2 linked regions of the Homo sapiens genome follow. The gene in region 2 interacts genetically with the main gene of each other region. Each region holds a gene or a part of one and is shown on either strand. Other genes may lie near its edges.

What was found.
Region 1: of UBA2 (region 2) and MFAP1, a change in one rescues a mutant of the other (synthetic rescue), as found in Homo sapiens cells (one study listed by BioGRID).

Annotation. Positions count from the first base shown.
Region 1 is NC_000015.10:43,805,813-43,821,690, reverse strand, and holds part of MFAP1 (microfibrillar-associated protein 1), read left to right. Parts: intron 1-4,242; coding exon 4,243-4,462; intron 4,463-6,616; coding exon 6,617-6,746; intron 6,747-7,002; coding exon 7,003-7,190; intron 7,191-8,333; coding exon 8,334-8,442; intron 8,443-8,543; coding exon 8,544-8,704; intron 8,705-11,776; coding exon 11,777-11,936; intron 11,937-15,878. UniProt on the Homo sapiens protein: Involved in pre-mRNA splicing as a component of the spliceosome.
Region 2 is NC_000019.10:34,447,556-34,463,433, reverse strand, and holds part of UBA2 (SUMO-activating enzyme subunit 2), read right to left. Parts: intron 13,170-15,878; coding exon 13,070-13,169; intron 11,454-13,069; coding exon 11,287-11,453; intron 9,175-11,286; coding exon 9,081-9,174; intron 8,991-9,080; coding exon 8,878-8,990; intron 4,666-8,877; coding exon 4,510-4,665; intron 2,965-4,509; coding exon 2,868-2,964; intron 1-2,867. UniProt on the Homo sapiens protein: The heterodimer acts as an E1 ligase for SUMO1, SUMO2, SUMO3, and probably SUMO4. It mediates ATP-dependent activation of SUMO proteins followed by formation of a thioester bond between a SUMO protein and a conserved active site cysteine residue on UBA2/SAE2.

The sequences.
Region 1 (15,878 bases), on a different chromosome or scaffold from region 2:
CGTCTTTAATCCATCTGGAATTTTTGTGTCTGTGGTGGAAGTTAGAGGTCTAATTTTACTATATGGTTGGCCAATTGTCCCTTCTCACCCCATCCATTTTCTACTGATTTTTAATGCCATCCCTATAATATACTCGAGTTCTCATATAAGTTTGTTTTTCTTTTCTCTGTTACATTGATCTCTGTGTACTTCCTGGGTCACTGACATATCTGGTAAACTATGCCCCACCCCTCCTTCCCCGCCCCCATCAGCTTTATTCTTCTTCAGCATTGTCTTGGCATTTTGGGGCCTCCTGTTCTTCCATATGATTTTGGAATAAGCCTGGAGACAACTTTTAATGGAATTGCATTAAAATGATAGATTATACATTTATAGGTTAATTCAGGTGCAGTTGCCATCTTCTCATCCTTGAACATGAAATATTTCTCTATTTACATCTTTTTTATCTTTCAATAAAATTACATATTTTTCCTCCTAAAAGCCTTGTACATTGTTTGTTGGATTTATTCCACAGTATCTTATAGATTACTTGTGACCGTTAATGGTATTTTAAAACTATATTTTCTTCAGCCTGGGCAACATAGCGAGACCCCAAAAAATACAGTGCTCTACAAAAAAACAAAATTACCTGGGTGGTACCTGTCTGTAGTCCCAGCTACTGAGAGGCTGAAGAGGGAGGCTCACTTTAGCCCAGGAGGTTGAGACTGCAGTGAGCTGTGATCATGCCACTGCACACCAGCCTGGGTAACAGAATGAGACCCTTTCTCAAACAGTAGAAAATAAGCCAGGCATGGTGGCTCACGCCTGTAATCCCAGCACTTTGGGAGGCCCTAGGCAAGAGGATCACTTGAGTCCAGGAGTTCAAGACCAGCATGGGCAGCATAGTGAGACCTCGTCTGTACAAAAAAATTTTAAAAATTAGACCGGCATGGTGTTGCACGCCTGTAGTCCCAGCTACTTGGGAGGCTGAGGCAGGAGAATGGTTTGAGCCTAGGAGGCTGACGCTGCGGTGAGCCATGATTGCGCCACCGCACTCCACCCTAGGCAACAGAGTGAGACCCTGTCTCAAGAAAATAAATAAAAATAAAATTGTACTTTCTAATTATATGTAGCTAATGTACAGGTATGCTTATTTTTATAAATAAGTTTTTTATCTAGCATTTTTTCTGAACTCTTTTATCTATTTGTTATCTTGTGTTTTCTACAAAGACAACCATATAATCTGCAAATTATGGCAGTTTCTTCCTTTTAAATCCTTATAACTTTTCCTTATTGCCCAAATTAGAACCATAATACAGTGTTGACTAGAAGGTGTGATAGGTACAACATTAGGATGCTCACTGGTTTTTTTTGTTGTTGTTGTTTGTTTTTTTTGAGATGGAGTCTTACCCTGTCGCCTAGGCTGGAGTGCAGTGGCGCGATCTCGGCTCACTGCAAGCTCCGCCCCTGGGTTCACACCATTCTCCTGCCTCAGCCTCTTGAGTAGCTGGGACTACAGGTGCGTGCCACCACACCCGGCTAATTTTTTGGTTTTTTGTTTTTTTGAGACGGAGTCTCGCTCTCTTGCCCAAGCTGGAGTGCAGTGGTGCTATCTCGCTCACTGCAAGCTCTGTGTCCCGGGTTCACGCCATTCTCCTGCCTCAGCCTCCCAAGTAGCTGGGACTACAGGCACTCGCCACCATGCCTGGCTAATTTTTTTGTCTTTTTAGTGGAGATGGGGTTTCACTGTGTTAGCCAGGATGTTCTCAATTTCCTGACGTTGTGATCCGTCCGCCTTGGCCTCCCAGAGTGCTGGGATTACAGGCGTGAGCCACCACACCCAGCTGGATGCCCACTGATTTTTAAAGAGAATGCTTCTGGCCAGTCACAGTGGCTCACACCTGAAATCCCAGCACTTTATGATACTGAGGCTGGCAGATCACCTGAGGTCAGGAGTTCAAGACCAGCCTGGCCTACATGTTGAAACCCTGTCTTTACTAAAAAATACACAAATTAGCCAGGCATGGTGGTGGGCACCTGTAATCCCAGCTACTCAGGAGCCTGAGGCAGGGAGAATTGCTTGAACCCAGGGGGCGGAGGTTGCAGTGAGCGGAGATCATGCCACTGCACTGCAGCCTGGGCAACAGAGCGAGACTCCATCTCAAAAAAAATAAATAAATAAATAAATAGAATGTTTCTATTGTTTTATCATTAAGTATAAAGTCTGCTGTATCTATTATTTTTTAAAAATGTGACTTTAAAAAATAGTAGGCTAGGAGAGATGGCTCACACCTGTAATCCTAGCACTTTGGGAGACTGAGGCTGGAGGATCACTTGAGGCCAGGAGTCCAAGGCCAGCTTGGGCAACATAGCAAGACCCTTTCTCTACCTTTTAAAAAATAACAAACAAAAATAAAATTTTAAAAAGTAAAAATAGTATATTGCTTCCCTCCCATTGTTCATCTATCTATCTATGTACATTTTTTTTTGGAATTTTGTTTTGTTTTGTTTTGTTTTTAAAGACAGAGTCTTACTGTGTTGCCCAGGCTGGAGTGCAGTAGCACGATCTCAGCTCACTGCAACCTCCACCTTCCAGGTTCAAGTTATTCTCCTGCCTCAGCCACCTGAGTAGCTTGGATTAAAAAGTCTGTGCCACCATGTCTGGCTAATTTTTGTATTTTTAGTAGAGACGGAGTTTTGCCATGTTGGGCAGGCTGGTCTCGAACTCCTAGCCTCAACTGATCTGCCCACCTTGGCTTTCCAAAGTGCTGGGATTACAAGCATGAGCCACTGTGCCCAGCTATATATATTTTTGTGTTTGACACAGGGTCTCACTCTATCACTCAGGCTAAAGTGAGTGCCTTGGTGTGGTCATGGCTTGCCGCAGCCTCAACCTCCTGGGCTCCAGTGATTCTCCCACCTCAGCCTCCCATGTAGCTTGGGACCACAGGCATATACCACTATGTCCGGGTAATTTTTTTTGTTTTTAGTAGAGATGAGGTCTAAACCCAGGCTGGTCTCGAACTCCTGGGTTTAAGCAATCCTCCTGCCTCAACCTTCCAAAATGCTGCGATTATAGGCATGAGCCACTGCACCTGGCCCCCTCATTAATTTTCTAAGGTCAAACTATCCTTCTAGTCTTGGGCTAAATTCTAATAAGTTGTGTTGGTCTAGGGGTTTTTTTTTTTTGTTTCTTTTTTTTTTTTTGGTAGTTTTTATATTGCTGGGATAAATTTGCTCTTACGTTATTTAGTATTTTTGTATTTGTGTTTGTAAGTGAAATCCACCTAAAGTTTTCCTTTGAACTGTCCAATTTGGTTATCAAGGTTATACTCATAAAATAAGTTGGTTAGTTTTCACTGTCTTTGTTCACTAGAATTGTTTGTATTTGTAGGCTGGGTGCTGTGGCTCACGCCTGTAATCCCAGCACTTTGGGAGGCTGAGGTGGGCGGATCATGAGGTCAGGAGATCGAGACCATCATGGCTAATACGGTGAAACCCCATCTCTACTAAAAATACAAAAAATTAGCTGGGCATGGTGGCATGCGTCTGTAGTCCCAGCTACTCAGGAAGCTGAGGCAGAAGAATCACTTGAACCCGGGAGGCGGAGGTTGCAGTGAGCCGAGACCACGCCACTGCACTCCAGCCTGGGCGACAGAGCGAGACTCCGTCTCAAAAAAAAAAAAAAAAAAAGAATTGTATTTGTAAGAGATTACATACTCTTGCATGTTTGATAACACATAAGGTAAAGGAAAAGAAGGTAGAAATAGGTAAGATTAGAATATTGAGTCATGTGGCAGTATGTTATAAAGGCTGCCATGGAAATTCCAGAGGGAACTACAAGAATGCCTGAGCAGTTTTATGTTCCTGCAGAAATTACCCTTACTATGTGCTGGGCACTGTTACAAATAATTTGTTTAAGGGTATAGTTGAGGTGGGATACCATGAATTTGTGATGGATGCAGTCTGCCTTTTTGGGGGGGGACTTTTTTCTACTGTTTCACTGCCTACCTTCCTCTACTTCATTGTACTCAAGGTAAGCCTCATTATCATCAGTGTTGGCTTTCACAAGGATGCAGTCTCATGACTTGGCCTTTGTAGGAAAACACCATTAGAAGAGTAGATGGTTGGGTAGTGGCTCTCTTCTTCTTCTGCTTAGACTCTTGTCTACTATGAATAAAGGGCTCTATTTGCAAAGGCCGTGATGGGTTGAAGCACATTGAGAAAGAGGCTACTGAAACATAAGTTACCTTTCTCGCCCAGGTGAGATTTCAATGGAAAAAGTGAAGGTAAAGCGTTATGTGTCCGGAAAAAGGCCAGACTATGCCCCTATGGAGTCCTCAGATGAGGAGGATGAAGAATTTCAGTTCATTAAGAAAGCCAAAGAACAAGAAGCAGAGCCTGAGGAACAGGAGGAGGATTCATCCAGTGACCCCCGGCTACGGCGTTTACAGAACCGTATTAGTGAAGATGTGGAAGAGAGGTAATGTCTGTGATTGTGTTTACTTGAACATGAACCTCTACAGCTTAATAATAATAATAATAGCTAATACTTGAATAGTACTACCAAGTAGATTACATTTGCTAATTCTTGTAATCCATACAATAACTTTATGAAATAGGTGCTATTATCCCCATTTCACAAAAGGAGGAAACTAAGAGCACAAAGGGGCTAAGAAAGTTACATGACCAAAGCTACAAAGTGGCAGCTTCAGGAAACAGCAGGTTACTTCTGGCCTAAAGGACCTACTCAACTCCTTATGGGAATAGAAAACACAGACCATTTGTTGGCTGTTGAGAGGAGTCTTTTTAGCACAAAGATGTTTTATAAACTTTGGTAAATTGATTTTATACATCTACTTATTCTAAATGCTAATAAGGGGAAATGACACTGAAGTAGGAGAAAAGACCTTATAAAGGTCTCATGGTAGAAAGAGAGCCTCCCAGTGAGGGATTTTGTATGTTATATATTGATGGAGACATTACTTTATAGAGTAGGCCAGGAGTCCTGAACTTTCACCGTTCATAATTGTCCCAGGAGTTTTTTCACAGAGCTCCTGGGCCAAAACAGTTCTGTTTATTTTAGTTATTAAGTAGTTAGAGCCAAGTAACTTAATAAGTATTTATGTCCTAATAACTTTGCCACTTGAAGATTAACAGTGCCCATGGCCAGGTGCGGTGGCTCACGCCTGTAATCCTAGCACTTTGGGAGGCTGAGGCGGGTGGATCACGAGGTCAGGAGTTCAAGACCAGCCTGGCCAACTTGGTAAAACCCCATCTCTACTAAAAATACAAAAAAATTAGCCAGGCCTGGTGGCGGGCACCTGTAATCCCAGCTACTTGGGAGGCTGAGGCAGAGAATTGCTTGAACCTGGCAGGCAGAGATTGCAGTGAGCCGAGATCACGCCACTGCACTCCAGCCTGGGTGACAAAGCGAGACTCCATCTCAAAAAAAAAAAAAGAAAAGAAAAAAGAAAAAAAAATAAAATTACAGTGCCCAGGGGGGAAAAAACACTTTTATTCATTCTCACATAACCATAGTTACTAGTGGAATTTGTTTGCCTGTTGGACACTGACAGCCTTTCAAACCTTGGAATCAGCACTGTCACTTTTTCATGTCTTGTTTTATATTGATTTTCATACTATACTTTCTTTTACTTTTTATCACAGCAGCCACCAAAACCCAGTTTCACAAAGACACGATATTCTCGAAAGGAATGTAGTGTGACTTAATGTTGAAAGTGAATTATCTTGAGCTATTAAAAATATTCCAATGCAGGCCAGGCTCAGTGACTCATGCCTGTAATCCCAGCACTTTGGGAGGCCTAGGCAGGCGGATCACCTGAGGTCAGGAGTTCAAGACTAGCCTGGCCAATATGGCGAAACTCCATCTCTACTAAAAATAAAAAAATTAGCTGGGTGTGGTGGTGCATGCCTGTAATCCCAGCTACTCGGGAGGCTGAGGCAGGGATTATCACTTGAACCTGGGAGGTGGAGGTTGTGGTGAGCCAAGATCATGCCCTTGCACTTCAGCCTGGGTGACAGAGTGAGATTCTGTCTCAAAAAAAAAAAAATCCCAATGCATCCCTATGAGTTTGCTGGCTTGCTGTGGTGCCCCAGGATGCCTCAACATACATTTAGTATTTCAGGCCCAACTTGACTATTCGCTCTGACATCCTAGTTTAGTTTCTTTAATCTGCACCTCAGTTTCCTCCACCTCAATACTTTAATACTGGATGGACATGGTGGCTCACACCTATAATCCCAGCACTTTGAGAGGCTGAGGTGGGCAGATTGCCTAAGTCCAGGAGTTCAAGACCAGCCTGGGCAACATGGTAAAACCCCGTCTCTACAAAAAATACAAATATTAGCCAGGTGTGGTGGCACGCCTATAGTCCCAGCTACTCAGGAGGCTGAGGTGGGAGGATCACTTGAGTCTGGGAGGCAGAGGTGGCAGTGAGCCAAGATCGCACCACTGCACTGCAGCCTGGGCGACAGAGCAAGACCCTGCCTCAAAAAAAAAAAAACTTCAGTATTAATGAAGGCAAACATAATGTGCTCTGTGGCTATGGAAATGCAGTTGATGCTACTTCATTTTTATGACATTGGTGTTACATTTGGAGATACTGTTTTTCAGATTGGCTCGACATCGAAAAATAGTGGAACCTGAAGTGGTAGGAGAGAGTGACTCAGAAGTAGAAGGAGATGCTTGGCGCATGGAACGAGAAGACAGCAGTGAAGAAGAGGAGGAGGAAATTGATGATGAGGTATGATAAAGGAACATGGGAAGTTTTTTTCTGGATATAAGAAAAAGTTCATGCCAGTGCTCATTTGTTGAAGCCTTAAAAACATGAGATCACTGCTTTGGCAGGACTCTGATCATGTTCCTTGTTTGTGGGGATAGGATTAAAAATAGAATGATACTAAGTTGTATCTTTTTACATTTGAATTTGTTGTGTTTGATGAGACGAACAAAAAGCCATAGGCCATTTGACTGACTGGCTTATATATATGACTTGATAGGAAATAGAGCGGCGGCGTGGCATGATGCGTCAGCGAGCACAGGAGAGAAAAAATGAAGAGATGGAAGTCATGGAAGTGGAAGATGAGGGTCGTTCTGGAGAGGAGTCAGAATCAGAGTCTGAGTATGAAGAGTACACAGACAGTGAAGATGAGATGGAGCCTCGCCTTAAGCCAGTCTTCATTCGAAAGTAAGTATCTCACAAGCCAGATCTGAATCCACTTAATTACCACTTTCCAGGCCTGGAGACAAAAGTCTGTTTTCTGTCTTGCTATTCTGAAATCTAAACGCTGAGTGAAAGTGCTTTTGCTAGTGCTCTACCCTTGGCAGACTAGCTGCTGAGGAATATCTTGGCGTTAGCAGAGAACCTGAGTTTGTTTTCACATCTCTTTTTTCAGTAATAGAGCATATATCTGTCCAAGGCCTTTTTTTGTTTGTTTGAGACAGAGTTTCGCTCTTGTTGCCCAGGCTGGAGTGCAATGGCATGATCTCGGCTCACCACAACCTCCACCTCCTGGTTTCAAGCAGTTCTGCCTCTGTCTCCCGAGTAGCTGGGATTACAGGCATGCGCCACCACGCCTGGCTAATTTTGTATTTTTAGTAGAGAGGGGGTTTTTCCATGTTGGTCAGGCTGGTCTCGAACTCCCAACCTCAGGTGATCCGTCCTCCTCAGCCTCCCAAAGTGCTAGGATTACAGGCATGAGCCACGGCACCAAGCCAAGGCCATATATTTTTAAGCACAAAATTAAACTCAACGAGCAAATTCCTATTCCTTTCCTGATGGCTAGAAATCCTACTGCTTAGAGGCCAGCAGGTTCTTTGCTGTCTAGGCAGTTCTCAAAGATGAACATGATTTTAGTCCTCTAAAGACCTGGGATGATGGCTGGGCACGGTGGCTCACGACTGTAATCCCAGCACTTTGGGAGGCTGAGGTAGGTGGATCAGGAGGTCAGGAGTTCAAGACCAGCCTAGCCAAGATGGTGAAACCCCATCTCTACTAAAAATACAAAGAAATTAATCAGGTGTGGTGGCAGACTCTTGTAATCCCAGCTACTCAGGAGGCTGAGGCAGAGAATTGCTTGAACCCAGGAGGCGGAGGTTGCAGTGAGCCAAGATCACACCACTGCACTGCAGCCTAGGCGACAAGTGAGACTCCGTCTCAAAAAAAAAAAAAAAAAAAAAGACCTGGGATGACTCAGCGTTTTTTGCTCTTTGAAAATAATAGAGCCAAAGATTGTTTGGTTTTTGTCTGATTTGGATGGGACTAGGTCTAGGGGAACAAAGCACTCCACTCTAAGGACTTTGGGCAATTAACAGGATCTCTGTGATGCAGGAAGGACCGAGTGACAGTTCAAGAACGTGAAGCCGAAGCATTGAAACAGAAGGAGCTGGAGCAGGAAGCAAAACGCATGGCTGAGGAAAGGCGCAAGTACACACTCAAGGTACTGGGGAGTGGTTGCAAGGAATGAGTACAAGAAATAGTGTAATCAGGTTTGTCTGAGGAGAGTAAGGAAGTCCAAGCTGAATTGTTCTCCCTATCCAGATTGTCGAAGAGGAAACCAAAAAAGAGCTGGAAGAGAACAAGCGATCCCTGGCTGCATTGGATGCACTCAATACTGATGATGAAAATGATGAGGAGGAATATGAGGCATGGAAAGTTCGAGAGCTAAAAAGAATCAAGAGGGACAGAGAAGATCGAGAAGCGTGAGTAAAAAGATGAGCCTAGAGTTAATGCTGCTAATGGAACAGGTTTCTAGCAGGATAGCTCTGAGACTCATTACCTACTGTGAGTTCCATTCTAGCCACCTTCAGAGTTCTTGTTGCTTTGTGAGTTTCCTATAATTGGAATATGAGTTTCACTTGCTACAGTGAAATCAGGGAAGAGAAAAACACTTTGTCGATGTGTGTCCATAATAGAGTGCCAGCCAGTGCTCCCTTTAGTTTCCTAGTAGACACAAAAATTAGTAACTGTTAGTAGTTATCTCTTCTTGTGTACAACCCAACCCACAATTGAGTGACTTGAAACTATAATTTATTACTTTTCACAACTTTGGAGGTTGGCTGAACAGTTCCTCTACTGATTTCACCTGGGCTTACTTATGTAGTTGCATCCAGCTGGAAGGTTGACTGGGCTGGAAACTTAAAAGGGCTTCACTCACATGTTAGTAGTAGGTGGTGGCTATCAGTTAGGATACCTCACTTATCCTTCACTGGATTAGACTGGCTTCCTTACATAGCAGTCTCAGGGCACCATTCTAAGAGGGCAAGGTCTTCTGACATGTCGGTTCCAGAACTCATACATCGATCTTGCCACATACTGGTCAAAGCAAGTCACAAGGCCAACCTAGCTTTAAGCAGGTGGAGAAACAGACTCCACCTCTGCAGAGGAGGAGCAGCAAAGTCATACTTTTTGAAAAGGGGCATACATACTGTGAGGGGAAGAATTTGTGGCACTTAAATAATCTACACTGTGTTAGAGCAGAATCTTTTTTTTTTTTTTTTGACATGAAGTTTCACTTTTCACCCAGGCTGCAGTGAAGTGTCACAATCTCAGCTCACTGCAGCCTCCGCCTGCCAGGTTCAAGTGATTTTCCTGCCTCAGCCTCCCAAGTAGCTGGGATTACAGGCATGCGCCACCATGCCTGGCTAATTTTCGTATTTTTAGTACAGACAGGGTTTCACCATGTTGGTCAGGCTGGTCTCGAACTCATGATCTCAGGTTGTCCACCCAACTCGGCCTCCCAAAGTGCTGGGATTATGGCATGAGCCATCATGCCCGGCCCCAGCAGAATCATTTCTGAGCTGCATCACTCATTCCTGTAAATTACTAGGTATGAGAGGGTAATCCCAGATTACAAAGGAAACCATCAATAGATAACTCTAGGCTGGGCGTGATGGCTCACACCCATAATCCCAGCACTTTGGGTGGCTGAGGCAGGCGAATCACTTCAGGCTGAGAGTTCAAGACCAGCTTGGCCAACATGGTGAAAACCTATCTCTACTAAAATACAAAAATTAGCTGGGTGTGGTGGTGTGTGCCTGTTATTCCCAGCTACTCGGGAGGCGGAGGCAAGAGAATCGCTTGAACCCGGCAGGCAGAGGTTGCGGTGAGCTGAGATCGTGCCACTGCACTCCAGCCTAGGTGACAGAGTGAGACTCTATCTGGAAAAAAAAAAAAAAGAAAAAAAGAAAACTTGCCTGAGTATGAGCTACACACAGTAGATAACTCCATACTCAGCCTGTAATTTTTTGTTTTTGGTTTTTTTTTTTTTTTTGAGACACAGTCTCACTCTGTCGCCCAGGCTGGAGTGCAGTGGCGCAATCTTGGCTCACTACAACCTCCACCCCCTGGGAGTCAAGCGGTTCTCCTGCCTCAGCCTCCTGCGTAGCTGGGACTACAGGTATATGCCACCACGCCCAGCTAATTTTTGTATTTTTAGTAGAGGTGGGTTTTCACCATGTCGGCCAGGCTGGCCTTGAACTCCTGACTTCAGGTGATCCACCCACCTCGGCCTCCCAAAGTGCTGGGATTACAGGCATGAGCCACCACGCCTGGCCCTCAGCCTGTAGTTTCTAAGATTTTTATCCTGGACCTGTAGGAGTAGGAGTCTAAGTGCCCTTTAAAATTGTACACAAGGCCGGGCGTGGTGGCTCACGCCTGTAATCCCAACAATTTGGGAGGCCGAGGTGGGCGGCTCACAAGGTCAGGAGTTTGACACCCGCCTGTCCAACATGGTGAAACCCTGTCTGTACTAAAAATACAAAAATTAGTCGGGCATGGTGGCACACACCTGTAATCCCAGCTACTCAGGAGGCTGAAGCAGGAGAATAGCTTGAACCTGGGAGGCAGAGGTTGCAGTGAGCCAAGATCATGCCACTGCACTCCAGCCTGGGCAACAGAGCAAGATTCCATCTCAAAAAAATATAAAATTGTACACAAAATTGTGTGTATGTATGCATTTTATTTGGAGACAAGGGATATCACTCCCTCTCCCCAACACTGGCTAAAAAGTTACTGCAATCTGGCTGGGCGCAGTGGCTCACGCCTATAATCCCAACACTTTGGAAGGCCAAGGCGGGCGGATCACGAGGTCAGGAGATTGAGACCATCCTGGCTAACACGGTGAAACCCCGTCTCTACTAAAAATTCAAAAAGATTAGCTGGGCATGGTGGCGGGCACCTGTAGTCCCAGCTAATCGGGAGGCTGAGGCAGGAGAATGGCATGAACCCAGGAGGCGGAGCTTGCAGTGAGCCAAGATCACACCACTGCACTCCAGCCTGGGCGACAGAGCAAGACTCCATCTCACCAAAAAGAAAAAAAAAAAAAAAAGTTACTGCAATCTAATTAATGATGGTAATCTTTGGTTTATGACATGCAAGCACCTATATGATTATGATACACTTACATAAAGGAATACCAGCAAAGCCTCAGACACTTATTTTAAATTCACTGATTTTTTTTTTTTTTTAAAGCTAAGAAGACCTTTTAGGGAAAGAGAATTTGTAATGTTGGAAAACCCAGCAGTAATAGTATGTCTGAACGTCAGAAGGGCTAGAATCAACTTTTGAAAGTTGGCAATACCTAGTCTAGCAAACATAATGAAGACTAACTCACCCATTTGTTTATTGAGCTCCTTATCTTGATTCCTAATAGGCAATGACTAGAATTAAAGAAGGTGACTAATACTTGAAATGACATGGGACTGTTATTTTCAGATAATTTGGTCTTTCTGAAGCTGTAACAGTACCAATAAATTGTTTTGCTCCCTGGACAGGCTTGAGAAGGAGAAAGCAGAAATTGAACGCATGCGAAACCTGACTGAGGAAGAGAGGAGAGCTGAACTTCGGGCAAACGGCAAAGTCATTACCAACAAAGCTGTTAAGGGCAAATACAAGTTCTTACAGAAGTATTATCACCGGGGTGCCTTCTTCATGGTAAGAAGTGAAAAGAGAGTCAGAAAATTGGGCAGTAGGAATAACTCAGAAACTTTGAATTATTTTTCTCTTCAAGAATATTCTGGAATGTAATTTCCACTTGCCAGTGGTCAGCTTTCTCATTTGCTTTTTCCTTCTGAACAATATAAACTCAGAGAAAAGCATCAGCAATTGGATGACAGAAGTAGCATCAACTGTTCTCTCTTTTGGCCCCAACTCTCAAAAATAGGAAATGATGTAATAGACTTTTTTTTTTTTTTTAAGAGACAGAGTCTCGCTGTCACCCAGGCTGGGGTACGGTGGTGCGATTATAGTTCACTGCAACCTTGACGTCCTGCGCTTTACACCTGCTTCAGCCTCCAGAGTAGCTGGGACTACAGGCATGCAACAACCATGCCTGGCTTTTTTTTTTTTTTTGGTTATTTTTTTTTTAATTTTTCGTAAAGACCAGGTTTCACTATGTTGCCCAGGCTGGTGTTGACCTTCTGGCCTCAAGCAATCCTCCCACCTCAGCCTCCCAAAGTATTAGGAATACAGGCATGAGCCATCATCCCCAGCCTTAGATAAATTGAGGAAATGAAATAGAGAAGTGATCTGTACAGATAGTGGACTAATTAGGTCCTCCACATGACATAGTTGTCATTCTTTCATAGCTGAATGAGAAGTTTTGGTTATGTGAAAACCAAACTCTGCAAATAGCTTTACATTAATTCACTTTTGGGTGGCAGAAAGTTAGTTCACTTCATTCTGAACTGACAGTACCCAAGAGTAACTAACCAAAAAAAATGGTTTATTATCTAACCATTAGATGGAATGCCGTCATCTTTGTTTTTCATATAAAGACTAAGATCAAAATAGCAATCTGTTAACCCTGTATGGTTTATTTCCTAATGTTAAAGCAGTTTGCACCAAAAACTAGACTAGCTTTTTCAAGTGCCGTGTGGCAAATTCTAAATATCCCCACTGCAACTAAATTCCTGCCTTTCACTGCAGATGCTGTTAAAACTTCAGTGGCGGCTTCCCTGCCACCCTCCAAAATCAGTTTCAGGTCTATCTGATTAGCAGGAAGTGTTTACTTAGGTAGTTTTCCAGCAGATGTAGCTTACTATTCAGTGGAGATTATGAACTACTTCTTGTACTGCTTCGGTCATAAAGTTTGTTTGCTTAAGCAGTTCGCAGCTTTAATAATCAAGTTTCTTAGAGAAGCAGTTCATTGCTAGTTAAGATACATAAGAAAAGTGTATGTGAAAGTCCTTTGGTGGGCCAGGTACATTGGCTAATGCCTGTAATCTTAACATTTTGGGAGGCAAGGCCAGCAGATCAGTTGAGCCCAGGAGTTCAGCCCGGGCAACATGGCAAAACCCCATCTCTACAAAAAATACAAAAATTAGGCGTGGTGGTCCGTGCCTGTAGTGTCACCTATCAAGGGGCTGAGGTGGAAGGATTGCTTCAGCCCGAGAGGTTGAGGCTGCAGTCAGCCGTGATCGTGCCACTGCACTGCAGCCTGGGTGGCTGACCAAGACTTTGTCTCAAAATAAATTGTTTTTAAAAAGTCTTTCTTAAACAAGATAGTGCTATTTTTAATTCCTTCAGCATATGTGTTTATAAATATGTATCACAGCATTGTAATATTATCACTCAGGCTAGAGTGCAGTGGTGCAGTCATGGCTCACTGCTGCCTCATTCTCCTGGGCTCAAGCAGTCCTCCTGCCTCAGCCTCCTGAGTAATTGGGACTACAGGTGTGTGCCACCACACCTAATTTCTATTTTGTAGAGATGGGTTTTGCTATGTAGCCCAGGCTGGTCTCAAACTCCTGGGCTCAAACTCTCCTTCCACCTTGGCCTCCCAAAGTGCTGGGATTACAGGCAAGAGCAACTGCATCCAGCCTTACTAATGTTGTTTATTTCATTGAGTAAGTAAGCTTTAGTGCATATACTATGCAAAGGTCACTGTTTAGCACTGTTAGCGAGAATACATAATCACTATAACATAAGTAAAAGTAAAGTACTGTAGGGGTTCTGACGAGAGAGATGTTATATTTGGTAGAAGATTGAAAGGGTTGACGTAAAGGTTGTAACATTTAAGCATTTAAGATGTATAATTTTGGGCCGGGCGCGGTGGCTCACGCCTGTAATCCCAGCACTTTGGGAGGCCAAGGCAGGCGGATCATGAGGTCAGGAGATTGAGACCATCCTGGCTAACATGGTGAAAACCCATCTCTACTAAAAATACAAAAAATTAGCTAGGCGTGGTGGCGGGCGCCTGTAGTCACAGCTACTTGGGAGGCTGAGGCAGGAGAATGGCGTGAACCTGGGAGGCGGAACTTGCAGTGAGCCGAGATCACGCCACTGCACTCTAGCCTGGGCGACAGAGTGAGACTGTATCAAAAAAAAAAAAATTAAATATATAATTTTTTTTTTTGTCACCTAGGCTTGAGTGCAGTGGTGCGATCTTGGCTCACTGCAACCTCCGCCTCCCGGGTTCAAGCAATTCTCCTGCCCCAGTCCCCCAAGTAGCTGGGAATACAGGCGTGTACCACCACGCCCAACTAGTTTTTGTATTTTTAGTAGAGACGGGGTTTCTCCATGTTGGCCAGGCTGGTCTTGAACTCCTGACCTTAGGCGATGTGCCCACCTCAGTATCCCAAAGTGCTGGGATTACAGGCGTGAGCTACTATGCCCGGCCAAGATGTATAGACTTTTTGACATTCGGTGCTGGGAAGACATTCCAGGTGGAGACCAGCAGGAGTGGAGGCAGAAAGCATCAGCTGTGAAGGGAAGCGGCAAAGAGAACTGAAAAGGTGGATTAAGGCTGTATAATATTTGGCCTTGATTACTACACAGAGGAGTTGTATTCATTTATTTATTTATTTATTTATTTTTGAGATGGAATCTCGCTCTGTCACCCAGGCTGGAGTGCAGTGGTGCGATCTCAGCTCACTGCAACCTCCACCTCCTGAGTTCAAGTGATTCTCCTGCCTTGGCCTCCTGTGTAGCTGAGATTACAGGTGCGCGCCACCAGGCCTAGTGTTTTTTGTATTTTTAGTAGAGACAGAGTTTCACCATGTTGGTCAGGTGGGTCTTGAACTCGTGACCTCGTGATCCGCCCGCCTTGGCCTCCCAAAGTGCTGGGATTACGGGCGTGAGCCACTGCGCCCAGCCTAGGTGTTGTATTCATTTAATAGACAACCATTGAAGTTTTTGAGCAAGGCAAAGATTATAATGAGTTACAGTCTAGAAACATCAGTGCCATGACAGTATGTGAGACTGATAGTAGAGGAAAACTAATAACCCAGGTGGTAAGAGTTTGTAAGATGTGGCAACTGATTGAATGCACACAGAGGTTACTCAGTTTTGAATCTAGGTAATCGAAGAGTACGCTGGTCCTACTAACAGAAAAGTTAAAGAGAAGAGGTTGATATGGAAAGGTTAGGTATTAATAAATGGTTTTCACTTTAGACGTGCATTTCAAGTCCCAATAAAATATCCAACTTATGATATATGAAAGCCAGTAAAAAATCCAGGATTGCAGATTTGAGAGGCCTATGCAGAGTTGAAGTCACATGAGTAAACAAACACATTGAGTGCAGAGAATAAGCCAACCTTCAAGACACGTCTACACTCAAGGAGAAAATTAGGCATAGTTGCATGCACCTGTAGTCCCAGCCACTCAGGAGGCTGAGGTGAGAGCATCGTTTGATCCTGGGAGGTCAAGGCTTCAGTGAGCAGTAGTGACCCCACTGCACTCCAGCCTGGACATCAGGACATCAGAATGAGACGCTGTCTCAGGGAAAAAAAAAAAAAAAAAGGAGAAATACAACAAAGGAAAAAGAATATCATCTCGGCCGGGCGCAGTGGTTCACACCTGTAATCCCAGCACTTTGGGAGGCCAAGGTGGGCAGATCGCAAGGTCGGGATATCGAGACCATCTGGGCTAACACG
Region 2 (15,878 bases):
AGCCTCCAGAACTGTGAGAATATAAATTTCTGTTGTTTAAGCCACCTGGGTTGTGGTATTTGTTATGGAGGCCCTAGTACCCTAAAACATTAAAACGCTGGGAATTCAGTCTTAAAACACTTAACTACCGAAACTACTTCAGGGGGACCAAACTGAGAAATTCTGAAAACTTTTCCCCATTCAAATCAATTTTTTTTAAAGACAGGGTCTCACCGTGTCACACAGGCCAGAGTGCATCCCAGACTTGAGCAGTCTTCCTACCTCAGCCTCCAGAATAGCTGGGACTACAGGTGTGCACCACCATGCCTAACTAATTTTCTTTCTTTTTTTTTTTTTTGAGACAGAGTCTCACTCTGTTGTCCAGGCTGGAGTGCAGTGGCACCATCTTGGCTCACTGCAACCTCCACCTCCCAGGTTCAGGCGATTCTCCTGCCTTAGCCTCCCGAATAGCTGGGATTAAATGCACCCCCTCCACCATGCCTGGCTAATTTTTGTATTTTTAGTAGAGACAGGGTTTTGCCATATTGGCCAAGCTGGTCTCCAACTCCTGACCTCAGGTGATCCACCCACCTCGGCCTCCCAAAGTGCTGGCATTACAGCTACAACGCCCGGCCTAATTTTTGTATTTTTACAAGAGATGAGGTTTTGCCATGTTGGCCAGGCTGGTCTCAAACTCCTGGCCTCAAGTGATCTGCCCGCCTCGGCCCCTCAAAGTGCTAGGATTAGAGGTGTGAGCCAGTGCACCAAGCCCAATTTTCTATATAATCTCAATTTTCAGTCTCCCCCCACTTTTTTTTTGGCTTTTTAACATTTTTTCATTATTTATAAGGAAAACGCTTAGAACGCCTTTCCCTACGTTGACACCCAGAAAATACTAACAGTTTCTCCTAGTTCTTTTCCAGATCTGTTGCTTGCTTTACCATTTTAATCTACCAGGAATGCCCTTGGCATTCTTACCCAGATTTCCACCTCCAAGCCCTTTCACACATCTCCACTGACTGCAAACCTCTTGGAACCATCACATTCAAAAGGAAAACCAGTTAATGTGGGTTCACATTTTGGTGAACTAGCATCACCTGTGAAGTCTTGTGCTCGCCTAACAACGCTGCTAACATTGTAATGCTATTCCTCAACTGGGCTCCAAGTTCTGACTTTGCAAATCTCAAATCTATCACCTGCCTCTGCCTTAGTAAAAATCCCTCAATCCCCTCCTCCCTAATAGCTCCCTGCTACTCCCCTGTTTAAACCCTGGTGGCAGGTGGCAGTGAAATACTGCCCCTTCCTCTGGAGGGTAGGGGTCAAGGGAGAGGAGGAAGACACACACTGCACATGTGACAAGAAAGACTTCAACCTCACCACTGCTGCCAACCCCTCAGCACCCCAACTTCCAGCGAAACCAAATAATGGGCCACTCCCAAGGCAGTTTAGGTTGTTTCACAAGTTCACACCTTTGTAGACAGATGTTCATTCTGTCTAAATGCTCTCTTCTTTGTCCAGGGAGTCCTCACTACTACTTCAAAAACTGACCCAAGAGTACTCCCTCTCCTATTACTCCCCCTCCGTTTCACAAAGCTGAATATACTTTCCTTAGATTCATACTGTGTACACACTCTTTCTAGTTTTCCTTGGACGATGCTCAATCCAGCTGTTGACAATCTCCCTTCTTCCAGGCTGCAAGGCACTTCAAGCCAAGGTCTGTTGTCTTATTCATCCTTGACTTATGAATACCCAAAACTATGCCTGTCATACAGGACTCCACACATATTCTGGTAAGTGCTGTCTCACCCTCCATACCACATGTATTCCGTACAGAAGGGTCACGCTGAAGCCACTGAAATTCCTGACCAGTTTCCATTTTTAAGCTAGCATTTGAAAGAGCTGGCTACAACTAAGGGACAGCATATAATCACAAACAAACATTTTTTTAAAAGTCAGCTGGCTAGAATGAGGCTTGAATACTCAAGTAGACTCCTAAAATAGAGCACCACACAGCCAAAACATGGCCTCCAATTACACATGACCTAATAGCCCAAAAAATTTCTCAACAAGCAACTACAACCAAGAAGAACCTTGACACTAAACCTGAATTTAAAGAAGGCTTAACATCTGAATCGCCATCAGGACCTCACAAAGTATGAATAAATGACCAATGGACAAATAGGTATGAATTAAGTCAATATACAGGGAAACACAGGGCCTAGAAACCTTCGAAAATAACAGTACACTGGCAAAAACTGGGACATGGAAAAAACGAGAACAGCAACTCAAGAAATGAGCTGCAAAAGTGACCAAGGAGGTATAGGATCAACGAGTACAGTCTGAAGGAGGAATAACTACGATGCAATCCTTACTATGAAAGCTTCAACAGAATCAAATGTATTGTACCTTGTATAGCAAATGTGTTAGCAAAAGGGATGAACTGCTTGAACTTTTGAAAGGAAAGATCAGAAAGCCAAAACCGGGCACTGAATTTCAATAATCTTTCTGCTATATAGTAGGAACAGGCTACCAAGGCTTCCCCACTCTTGGAGAAAAATCTCCAAATGCCTTAGAACCCTACCCACTGTGATCTGACAGACAGAATAGTCTTCTCATCACAAGGTTAGCTCCCAGGATCCATGATATCGGCAAGGAGGTTCCTTGGAAGTGGACAAGAGCACTGCAGTCCCTGAAAATGTCTGACATGGAGTTCCCAAACATGGAAGTGTGATGACCCCCAGCAATGTCACCTTGAAAGAGCACCTTCATGACCAAACACTGCCACTCTCTGCAATACTGAGTATCACATACAGTAAATGAATCAACTAATGTGCACTCTTCAAGCAGTCTCCTCAATGAGAGGAATGAATAAATACAATGTATGATACCTTCCGTCTCTCCCTCTTCGGAAGATATTAGGATTGTTCCTTTCCCATCTTCAATTTGGACATCTGGTGCTACCATAGCAAATTTTTCTTTCACTATCTACAAAAAAAAAAAAAAGGATTCAAAATATTAACGTAGGTAATTAAAGATCATAAGAAATCCTAGACTTCTATAAAGGCTCTTACTTTCCCCTTCTATTTATTGGAAACCGGCGAAGTCACTCTTCAAGATCCCTTAGAGCAAGCAGGAAAGCCGTGGGGATTCACCTGAGTTCCATCCCCACATCTGACCACTGATGCAGATCAGATCCAACTTCATCTCAACAGGGGACTAGGAACTCCCTGGCTGGCTCTTGCTACTTTGTCTTTCCCTGCAGGTTAGGTAGTGAGCTACACACTTGACATATTTCATTTCAGTCTCTGTGCCAACCCTGTAATGGCAGGGGTTTCATAGATGGAATCAGTTCTCATTAACCTGACTCTCAGATAAGTCTCCCCGTTCCATGCATTTAGAGAAGTGATAATATTCTGTTAAATCCTACCAGCTCCTAAAAAAGAAAGAAGGAAAAAAGGAGGAACTCTCTATAGGTCTAAGAATCCTACAAATAGAGGAATAACCTTGAAGCTCAAGAATCAGGAGATACCAAAGATAATTATTTCCTAGAAAAGAAACTGGGGCAACCACCCGCTGCTGTACCTGCCACTTCCTTGACCAAAACATAAGCTCAAATCAATCCGTCCTGCCTAACCAGTTTCTGGAAGAAAGGCCATTCCCTATCAGGCAGCACTGCTATTTGAGAAGGGCCACTTCCTCCTCTCTCAAGAGGCATGTAAATATGTAGCATTATGATGGTCACAACCAGAGAACAATAGGAAGTGATCCCAAAGTGGAAAGTGACACTTTTGGGTCATAAAAAAAGAAAATCTCCCCTAATACACAAATCTAGCCAATTTAACAGGAACTTAAGGACCAGACCATGTCCTAAACCCCCATTTCTTCCCTCGCTTCAGCTCCAGAGGTGAATCCAGGTGTGCAAATGCCCTATGTCCTCAGGGACTAACTTACCATATCAGAATCAGGTCATATTAGATAAGTGTGTACCACCACTTAGCCTCAACTCAGACCTCAGAAATAACAAAAGCCCCCTAATTTGCTGGGAGTGGGCACTGTCCAACACGCAGAGAAACCAAAACTCTGCAAGTTACTTATACCCTTTAATACAAAGCTGGTAACTGGGGCTTTGCTCTACTGGAAATGCAAACTTTGCACTGCATGCAAATACTTATCTGCTCACTGCCACAGTGAGGACCATTCAAGGATACCTGTTATTTGTCAAAAAATACAGAATTTACCCACTGCCTGGGAAGCAAAGAGCAAAGAAGTCCTCTGCTTGCTGTGATACTGTGCCACCACTGTGCTGCAGATTCCAGTCAAATACTCCTACTCCATTCTGGGAATGTGAGGCACTTATTCTGGAACCACAGACAGAAAAGCCTGCAGGAATCCAGAAGGCAAAATAACCCAGGAAATCACAGCCACACATCTCTGCAGTTGGACCTTTTCAGAATCAGCAGCTAGTGTTTGTTTGTCATCACAGTAATACTGTAAAAGCAAAAGGAAAAGAGACCCAGGCCTTGCACTGACCTTGTCTTGTAAGGTGAGAACAGTCACTTTATGGACATTCAGCCGCACAGTCACCTCTGGCTTGCTGGCACATACATAACAATTGGGGTTGGGAGGATCCAGTGCACAAGGCACAAGAAGCTTCTTTCTTGGGTTTGGTTGTTTATTCAAAAAAATCTTTGGAGGAGAAATAACAGGCAGAAATCGGAAACGTGCTGTAATTTTATACGCCATACAATCTAAAATCTCGTTTACCAGATATCCAATAAAAAATGACTTAAAAATTCCCGTCCAGATGGCAAAATGGATCAGGAAAATCATGACCTTTTTAGGAACCTGGTTTTTCAACCTTCTTTTTTTTTTTTTTTTTTTTTTTTTTTTTTTTTTGAGACGGAGTCTTGCTGTCGCCCAGGCTGGAGTGCAGTGGCGCAATCTCGGCTCACTGCAGGCTCCGCCCCCTGGGGTTCACGCCATTCTCCTGCCTCAGCCTCCCGAGTAGCTGGGACTACAGGCGCCCGCCACCTCGCCCGGCTAATTTTTTGTATTTTTTTTTTAGTAGAGACGGGGTTTCACCGTGTTAGCCAGGATGGTCTCGATCTCCTGACCTCGTGATCCGCCCGCCTCGGCCTCCCAAAGTGCTGGGATTACAGGCGTGAGCCACCGCGCCCGGCCTCAACCTTCTTTTCTAATCAGCTAAAGGCTAGGCTAGCTAGGCTTGCTGAAAAGACATCTCCTTGTATTATATAAGACTCCGCGTTCTTCTGCAACCTGATTTGGCAAGAGTAAGGGCACAGGCATGTTAATCTGTGGTGCCATCATTGTATCAGCAGCTGGTGTCCCTCCCTGAGGCTATTCTTATCAAGCAAGCAATCTCCTGACAAGACCAACACATTAATTTCTCCAGTTAACGATAGTGCCTTTCACAGTTGTCTAGAATCAACATCACTGCCTTCCCAAATTTTCTGATTAGAATAACATTTATATAATGAGGGAAAAAAATGTATTTCTGGCAGTATATGTACCTATTTACCATTTCTCTAATACTAAACAAAAAAATAATTAAGAACCAAGGCAAATATACAAATTACACTGAAATTAAGAAAAGCTCCAAGCTCCTGCTTCTACTAAAGTTTAGAAAACACTAGCAAGATCCAACAGAAACAACAAATGTCAGAAGACAAGAAGCTGAGACACAAACCTTTATCTTGTGACTACAATGTAGTGTTGAGTCTGCTAAGAGGAATGAATTCTAAAGGAGTACTCTACGGATTCCCCTGAGAATACAGAACTAAATCCCTCAAGAGACACTAAAGCCGTCCTCTGTAAAATAGCTTCTCCGTACAATGAATACTGGTAGGTGGAAGGGCTAGAAGCAAACTGCCCAGGCCAAGCAGGCTACAGAGGGAGAAAGATTTGTTTGATTTTGGGCTTCACCGGGAAGGTAAGTGTGCTAAGGGAAACTGACAATAATAAAAGCAATTGCTACCACTATTAATACCTGGGCTAACATTAATCCAGGCTGGAATTCATTTGCAAATGTAAAAAAATGAAATCCAGATATATTACTATATTTTTTCTTGAGGCAGAGTTTCGCTCTTGTTGCCAGGCTGGAGTGCAATGGCGCGATCTCGGCTTAATGCAACTTCCGCCTCCCAGGTTCAAGTGATTCTCCTGCCTCAGCCTCCTGAGTAGCTGGGATTACAAACATGCACCACCATGCCCAGCTAATTTTATATATATATATATATATATATATATATATATATTTTTTTTTTTTTTAGTAGAGACCAGGTTTCTCCACGTTAGTCAGGCTAGTCTCGAACTTCCAATCTCAGGTGATCTGCCTGCCTCGGCCTCCCAAAGAGCTGGGATTACACGTGTGAGCCATCGTGCCCGGCCAGATATATTACTATTAATAGTCCAAGAGTGGCATGGAGCTAAGCAGGCAAAGAAACCGGAAGGATGTGATGGGAAATAACAGACATTTTAATAAGTTCAGTAATTAGTACTGTTGGTGAGCTCAAAGGGATACTACAGCTTCAGGCTGCTATAAAAAATTTTTTTTAAATAATTTAAAAACTGGGTATCGGCCAGGAACGGTGGCTCACTCCTGTAATTCTAGCACTTTGGGAGGCCAAGGTGGGCAGATCACCTGAGGTCAGGAGTTCATGACCAGCCTGGCTAACATGGTAAAACCCTGTCTCTCCTAAAACTACAAAAATTAGCCAGGCGTGGTGGCACCCGCCTGTAATCCCAGCTACTGGGGAGGCTGAGGCAGGAGAATCACTTCTACTTGGGAGGTGGAGGTTGCAGTGAGCTGAGATCGCGCCACTGCACTCTAGCCTGGGTGACAGAGCAAGACTCCATCTCAAAAAAAAGATACCAAAAAATAAAGTTCTTAGAAATTAAAAATATAACATATACAATAAAAGTTTAAATAGAAAACTAAATCAAGATGGCAGACTGGGCAATTTGATTCTGTTCCTTCAAACTGAAATTTCATGAAAATAAAATATTTTAAGAGTGCATCGAGGCTGGGCGCAATAGCTCACGCCTGAAATCCCAGTACTCTGGGAGGCTGAGAAGGGCGGATCACTTCAGGCCAGGAGTTTGAGACCAATCTGGGCAACAGGTGAAACACCGTCTCTACTAATAATACAAAAATTAGCCAGGTGTGGTGGCATGTGCCAGTAATCCCAGCTACTTGAGAGGCTGAGGCAGGAGAATCGCTAGAACCCAGCAGGTGGAGGTTGCAGTGAGCCGAGATCACATCACTGTACTCCACTGTACTCCAGCCTGGGTGAGAGCAAGATTCCACCTCAAAAAAAAAAAAAAAAAAGAAAAAGAAAAGGAAAAAAAGAGCGCATCGGGCCAAGTGCAGTGGCTCACACCTGTAATCCCAGCACTTTGGGGGGCCAAGGTGGGAGGACTGCTTGAGCCCAGGAGTTCAGGACCAACCCGGACAACATAGCAAGACCCCATCAGTTTAAAAAAAAAAGGCCGGGCGCAGTGGCTCATGCCTGTATGCCTGTAATCCCAGCACTTTGGGAGGCCGAGGTGGGCGGATCATGAGGTCAGGAGTTCGAGACCAGCCTAACCAACATAGTGAAACCCGTCTCTACTAAAAATACAAAAATTAGCCGGCATGGTGGCATGCACCTGTAATCCTAGCTACTGAGGAGGCTGAGACAGGAGAATCGCTTGATCCTGGGAGGTGGAGGTTGCAGTGAGCCAAGATTGTGCCACTGCACTCCAGCCTGGGCAACAGAGCTAGACTCCGTCTCAAAAGATAAAAAAAAGTAAGTGTGCATCAATGACACTGCAAAATAACAGTACCATTGCAAACTAGATATTTTTTGAAATTTCTGAAGGTAAACAGGTCTTTTTATTTCAATGATAAAAAGGAGAACCTAAACAACAGTCAAAGTATTGGCTAGTATTTCCTAGGAAGCCTTCTTGAGCTGGTAAGAAAGCGAAGTGTCTGCAGACACAACATCGAAGGAAGGAATCCAAAGAGAACATCCAAGTAGTGTTAGCCTTAAGAGATACACCTACCCCACCCACCACTAAGGTAGGAACTCTTAAAACAGGAGACCCTTACACAAAGCAAGGACCTGAAAAGAGAGGAGAAAAATACTTTCTCCATAAAAATGATCTTAAACTTGGTGCTTAGTGGAGGGGGAGGAGTATCTTCCCATATAATTCATGACAATAACATAGGGCACGTGCAGGTTTGTGGTCTGAATACATAGGTATTGAAAATCCTAATTTAAAAGTGGTCCTGTATTGGCAGTGCCCCAAGCACCCAAATATAATAACCACAAATGCTCTTTGAAGAAATACATCTACAATGGGTCCCTAAAGAATTACCAGACACAATTCTAATACACATTCAGTTTTTAAAAAATCATAAACCATACAAGCAAATCACTACGAGAAATAGCAGAAATGACAGCAGACTCACCCATAAAGATCTCAGACATTAACATTATCAAAAACTATACAATAAAATTGAAAAGAATGACTCAATAGGAGAATGACTGAACAGGGGACTATAAAATGACCAAGCAAATTTTAAAACCCATATAGCACTCTCAGAATTGAAAAACAGTTGAAACATCTTCTTAGTATAAGGACCGCACAATGAATTCTTCGAAGAATTCAGTAAAATTGGAAATGTTAAAAGCAAAAGCAACTTCTTAATTTTTCCTTTTTGTTGCAATTTCCAGGAAGCTTAAACACACACTCACTTGGTAACCAGAAAAATTACTTTTCCATTGCTTTAAACCAATTTTATTGTTTTCATTTTAAAAATTATCTGTTTAATGTACTTTTAATTAATGATTTTTTTAAGGGGGGTTGCATAAAAATGCAAACAGAAATACTCACTGTTCTGCACTGGTCTATTTTTCCTGATAAAATCTTCAATCCTTCCAATACTATCAACCCAGCAATTACTGCATTAGTAGTAGCAATAGCAGGAATAATGTTCCCTGCCATTGCTGGGAAAAAAAAAAAAGGATGAGTATGTTTCACTGTTTAAAAAACAACTTCAAGGTTTTAGTGATACAACTTTAGTACAAATAACTTACATTTGATATCAAATCTACTCTTCATATTCATACTGAAAATATGCATCCTGAGGTTTGCAGCAGAGGTGACAAAATCCATTGCAGATGGGTCATCCTGCCAATAATTTAAACAATTTAACAAGTTTCTCCACAAATTGACTATTTTGAAGCATTACTTTCAGAACAATACTTTCACGTGTTTATAATACTATAGACTTTCGACTAGAACAAGAGGTTGCTGAGGGAAAGACCAGTCAGCTAGGACCTCACAGTAGCATGGAGGTGGGTTAAGTAGGGGGTGGGGTCTCATCATCAGCTCCTCTGGTCCAGTAATGAGTCTGACAAGAACACCAAGAATCACCAGCTTCTAGGAACTCACTCCAGCCTAAACAAAGGCACCGGAGACTCAGTTGTATACACCGGAATCTCAATTCCACTCACTGACAATGGCAACCCTTTCCTGGTTCCATTCATCAGTAAAGAGAAGGTTGCTGGACAAACACAGAATCCAGGCCAAAAGACGAGCAATTTAAGAAAACTGTTTTAGGCTGGGCATGGTGGCTCATGCCTGTAGTCTCAAGCAATTTAGTAGGTTGAGGCAAGCAGATTGCCTGAGCTCAGGAGTTTGTGACCAGCCCGGGCAACGTGGCAAAACCCCATCTCCACCAAAAACACAAAAAATTAGCCAGGCATGGTGGCGCACACCTAAAGTCGTCCCAGGTACTCGGGAGCCTGAGGTGGCGGGATCACTTGAACCCGGGACGCAGAGGCTGCAGTAAGCCAAGATCATGCCACTGCACTCCAGCCTTGGTGACAGAGTGAGACCCTGTCTCAATTAAAAAAAAAAAAAAAAAAAAGCTGTTTCATTAACACTTCAGAAAAACCTGGATGACTCTTTTTCACTCCCCTTTGCCAAACTCTCTTCATATGCACCACTCTCTCACATATGCTGTTTCTTCAAATAAGGCAATACAATCCAAGTTTTTCCTGTTACGATTTGTATTTTTCCTGAGACTATATCCTAGTCTCTAGATTTCAGCAAGGCTTCCTGCTTTGAACTGAGAAGATATCACCCTGGTCTAAAATTCAGAGGCATCACAGAACAGAAGAAAAAATACTGAGAGCATAGTTCTTTATGTATTTATTGGCTGGCTGTGAATCCTCAGGCAAGTCAAATTCCTTGAGTCAAAATCTCTTAATCTATTAAATAGGGGAAATTATATCCCCATCTCATAAGGTGTGGTGAGGACTAAGAATACTGAATACTCAACACAGTGTCTTCCCTAAGCAGCTGTCTTATCACACCCATTACATGTGGACTTTACTCAAGAGGATAACAATTCCCATTCCAAGGGCTCTTTATTTAGCCTCTGTGCACTAATCAAACTTCCCAAATCACTAGCATAACAATAACAATGAAAATATGAAAAGTTACCCTTTAAATATCACAAAACCCAAGAGACTAATGTTTATAAGAATCCCAAGAATCTAAATATACTAGCTTCATTTTAGTGTATTTAGATGTCTGATTCAACCAAAGTTTCAAAATATGTACACACAAATTTTTCTTAGGTTTCTAAAATTGGCCTTTATGCCTTAAGACCCATGACTAATCTTCAACACCACAGGAACATACAAGCTTCATGAGATAAAACACTTTTAGCCATAGAAAATACTGATTACAATTAAAATTAAGTAAAATTAGTTCATAATATCAAATCTCAAAAGATGACATAACTGCAGAGTACTATTAAATATGATTTTAACTTCTAAGAATAATTACATCTCATTTTTGTATCAAGAGCTCTGTCTTTCAGACCTCTGAAATAGTAATAACTATTTCAATTCAAAGACAATCTTACTATTTTCAAGGGCAAATCAGGCCAATGAGATGTTTTCTCCAAATGATTTTATGACTTCTATGAATACATCTACTCTACACAAGAAACATTTCACTTTAATATATTCACGTTATTTTTCTAGTCAACATAATTATAAACCCTGAACACATCACTAGAATCCCAAATGAAGTTTTATGATATTGCTTGAATTCATGTACAGAAAATTCAGCTCCATACAGCAATTAGAGCTGAAAATATCCAAGCCAAATCAATATATTTCCTCAAAATCTAGTAAATATTCAAAAAATGACTAGCTTCTATTACATCTCAAGAACTAAAACACACTTTTGACATGTAAGTACTTGCCACACATTGTCAAAACGAACCTTATCCCATATGAGCTCAGCTCCATCCCCCTTTTCTGCTAAATGAACTCTCAAAGTCTCGATGCTCTTTGAAAAAAGACGTGCATAGCTCTTTACATCTAGAACCTGCTGGTCTTTCAGGCCTAACTGGGGTTCATTCTGTTGATCTGATGCATTCGTTTCTTCTCCTAAAGAAAAAAATATATATATTAGAAATTTCACTAATTAACATCATTCCTCTACTGTGCTCTGTTTAACAAGTTCAATCCCCGACCATTAAGAAATCAAATATGAAATAAATTCCATTAAAATAATTATCATGGGGCCAGGCACGGTGGCTCACGCCTGTAATCCCAGCACTTTGGGAGGCCGAGGCAGACGGATCATGAGGTCAGGAGATCGAGACCATCCTGGCTAACATGGTGAAACCCCGTCTCTACTAAAAATACAAAAAATATGCAGGCATGGTGGCGGGCGCCTGTAGTCCCAGCTACTCAGGAGGCTGAGGCAGGAGAATGGCGCGAACCCGGGAGGCGGAGCTTGCAGTGAGCCAAGATCGCGCCACTGCACTCCAGCCTGGGCGACAGAGCAAGACTCTGTCTCAAAAAAAAAAAAAAAAAAAAAAAAAAAAACTGTTAAACCTGAGATAGGAAAGGTACAAGACCACCTCAGTACCTCATAGGATTACTGGGAGATTTGAAGATATAATGTAGATAAGATGATAAATAAGCATTAGGCCCAGCACCTAGTGAGAATGAGAACTCAGTAAGCGGACACTACTAGAGTCATAATTAAATCTGTTTGATAACTATCCCTGATTGTTGAGAACTGCTCCAAAATGATATCCCAAGTCTCCCGGGATCTTTTAAGTTTCAATGGGTGCTATACTGCTGTGCATAAATTAATCCTAATACAGTTCAGATAAAGGAGAGACAAGGAGTGTTAAAGGGGAGTGGGATGAGAAAGCAGCCACTACAATAGTTTTCCTACATTTAAAATTTTAAAATATGCTGGGCACAGTTGCATACAGTCCCAGCTACTCAGGAGACTGAGGGAGGAGGATGGCTTGAGCCCAGGAGTCCAGGGATGCCTTGTGCTATGACAGCCTGTGAACAGCCACTGCACTCTAATCTGGGCAACATAGCAAGACTATGCCTCAAAAAACTTTTCATTTCTAAACATTAAAAAAATTTTACATTAAAAATGTGTTTCTAGATTAAATCTTAAAGAGATAATCACAAGGGTACAAAGGTGTACATAAATAGGCTAGGCGCAGTGGCTCACACCTGTTATCCCAGCTACTCGGGAGGCTGAGGCGGGAGAATCGCTTGAACCCAGGTTGCGGTGAGCTGAGATCGTGCCACTGCGCTCCAGCCTTGGCAACAGAGCGAGACACGGTCTCAAAAAAAAAAAAAAAAAAAAAAAAGATATACATAAATATATAGCAATTTCAAAACTTTATTTCAGGGAAAATACAAAAACACTACATGTTAATAAGAGACTAGTTAACTATACTGACTGACAAAAGCAAGTGAGAGTTTATCAATAGTATGATTCCATTTACGCAGTGTATAACGAATGCCTGCATCTGTGTACATAGGGCGGACCACCAGAACACTCCTGAAAATGTTATTAGTGGCTATTTCTGAAGTGTGGGACTTCAGTGACTTTTGTTCTTCATATTTTTTTGCACTGTTTGAATATATGAAGACATATCATTTTCAAGCAACAACAGGGCTATACAAAGACTTTACGCGAGGATATTTCCAGCTTAGGTGTTCCAAGACTAAAATGTATTCTTTACCTTGACTTTGTACTTCAGCCCAGTCCAACGGAACTGGAGGTTTCCTTTTCCGCCATAGTTTGTCCATTGTCAACAGATACCTGATGTCATCTTTAAAAAGCTTACAAAAGAAAGACAGATCCCATGAACCCCATAATCCCTAATTGATAAGATACAAGAAAACGTCATTGCTGATCTATATTACACTATGAAATCTGATTTAAAGATACATGTCATATACCAGCAGCATAACAATTTTCAAAAGGAAAAACATTTGTAAAAGGAAGTTCTAACAGAATCTCTACATTGAAAACAGCGAAATGCAGAAGTGCTCTGAGGAATGCAGAGTAAAGGAGCCCTGAACTGCCGACTGCCCCTGCCTTCCTAAGTCACCTCTCCAAAAGCTTCCCTAAATTTAGCTCCAAAGATCAGTCTGAAGCACAATCATACAAATAAATGTACATTATGTAGTTGTAAATAAATGTACAACTACAGACAATCACTGAGCCTAGGGATGCCAGTCAGCAATGCCTCCAAGCTCATGGGGACATGCACACAAAGTATACAGATTTTTAAACTAAAGTGCTTCACAACAGAACTTCTGAACTGCGATATCTTTAAAATGTGCCCTCCCCTCCAAAAATAACCCACAGAAACATGAACAAAAATAAAATGTAAAAACCCCCACACAATTATTACAAAAACAAAAACATTACAAGTAGATTGAGAAACTATCATATGAAAAGATGTGTTAGAACTTCAAGTGATTTTAATATTTTTTTCTTTTTCCTTATCTGCATTTTCTATTGTTGATTAATTTATTCAACACATTTATTGCTGGTACCAGGTAAGAACAGAAATTTGGCTATATTTAAAAATCACAGCCATTTCTATCAAAATATACTTAATCCATCAATACTAACTGAGCATCCTTAATCTTTATAGAGAATAAGCCAAACATACAAATAATCAGAATACAATTTAGTGTGAATATCACAAAGCCTTGAGTAAGGATTTCTGGCCAGGCGTGGTGGCTCACACCTGTAATCCAGCACTTTGGGAGACCAAGGTAGGTGGATCACGAAGTCAAGAGATCGAGACCATCCTGGCCAACATGGTGAAACCCCATCTCTACTAAAAATACAAAAATCAGCTGGGCGTCGTGGCGCGTGCCTGTAATCCCAGCTACTCGGGAGGCTGAGGCAGGAGAATCGCTTGAACCTGGGAGGCGGAGAGTGCAGTCAGCTGAGATCGCACCACTGCACTCCAGCCTGGCAACAGAGTGAGACTCAGTCTCAAAAAAAAAAAAAAAAAAAAAAAGATTTATATTTTATCTAAGAAATAAGGAAAGAGTCTCCTTATGACAGCAACATGTGAAATGGGTACAAAGGCAAGGAGATGAATCCACTATGACTTGGGTAACAAATGTGGCTGGAAACATTTTGTAGAGGATCTTGAAGGCTTGAACCAACAGTTTTCTAAGCCTAAGCTCCATCTCTTCTATTCAACTATTACTAAATATCAGGAGCCCCTCAGATTTCTGTACTGAACCATCTTTTCATTCTGTCCTCTGTGGTGTATCATGTCCATTTCCAGTAGTTAACCACATCTATAAACCTAGGAATCCCAACCATATCCCTAGTTGAAACCTCTCTACTTATCTACAAAACCACTTCTCTAATGTTCCAAAAGAATCTCAAATGAGTTCAAAATTGATTATTATCACCTTCTCCTACCCTCCCCCAACCCCTCTACACACATCTGCCTCCCAGCTCACTTATATCGGAGAACAGCACCTCTGTTCTTTGACCTGCCCAGGCTGAAGTGCAGTGGTGTGACCATAGCTCACTGAAGTCTCAACCTCTTGGGCTCAAGTGATATTCCTGTCCCAGCCTCCTGAGTAGCTGGGGACCGCAGGCTCAGGCCACCATGGCTGGCTATTTTTTTTTCGTTTTTAGAGATGGGGTCTTGCTATATTGCCCAGGCTGGTCTTGTGCTCCTGGCCTCAAGTGATCCTCCCGCCTCAGCCTTCCAAAGTGCTAGGATTACAAGTGTAAGCCACAGTGCCCAGCCAGGTACCATTTTTTATTCCACTGATCTTCACCATATACATGCAAAGTCCTGTTTAGTCTACTCCTCCATGTTCCAGTGGGAGTACAGATGGCTGTACTCCAGATTATTCTGGCACTGCACAACTCCAGGGGCACTGTCCCAGATTGGTTATAATATGAATATCAGATCCTAGGGTAGTATGTGCATCCCCTCTATCCCCTTATAGTGATCCTGTAAGACCACCTTTCAATGGATTCCCACTGTCTTGCTATAACATCCTTAAGAAGGCCTAGAAAGTCTGCCTGATCTGACCTCAACTTCTCTCTCCAGTCATCTTTTTCCACTCTCCCCCTTAATGGGATTTATGTCAGTTTTCCAACTGAGAGTTTCCTTGTACATACTGTACCCTATTCAGAGTTTCCTTGTACATACTGTACCCTATTCTGACTCTTATTCTTTCAAGCCTTGGGCTTAAATGTCACCTGCTCTAGAAAGCCTCTTCTGAAGCCTCTCCCTAACAACATCTGAAATGGGTATGCAGGCCAGGAGATGAGTCCTTTAGATGAAACTTATTATTCAAGGGCTGCAAAGCATCTGAACTTAATGTCATTAAGACTCTGAAGCTGAAATTTATTGTTCAAAGTTTGACTTCTCATCTAGACTGTGAACTCCCTCTAAAGAGCAAGGACTCTGTCTTCTGTCTTGTTCACAACTAAATCCCCTGTACTTAAAGAGGTGTCTGGCACACAGCAGATGTTTAAAATTATCTGCTAAATAA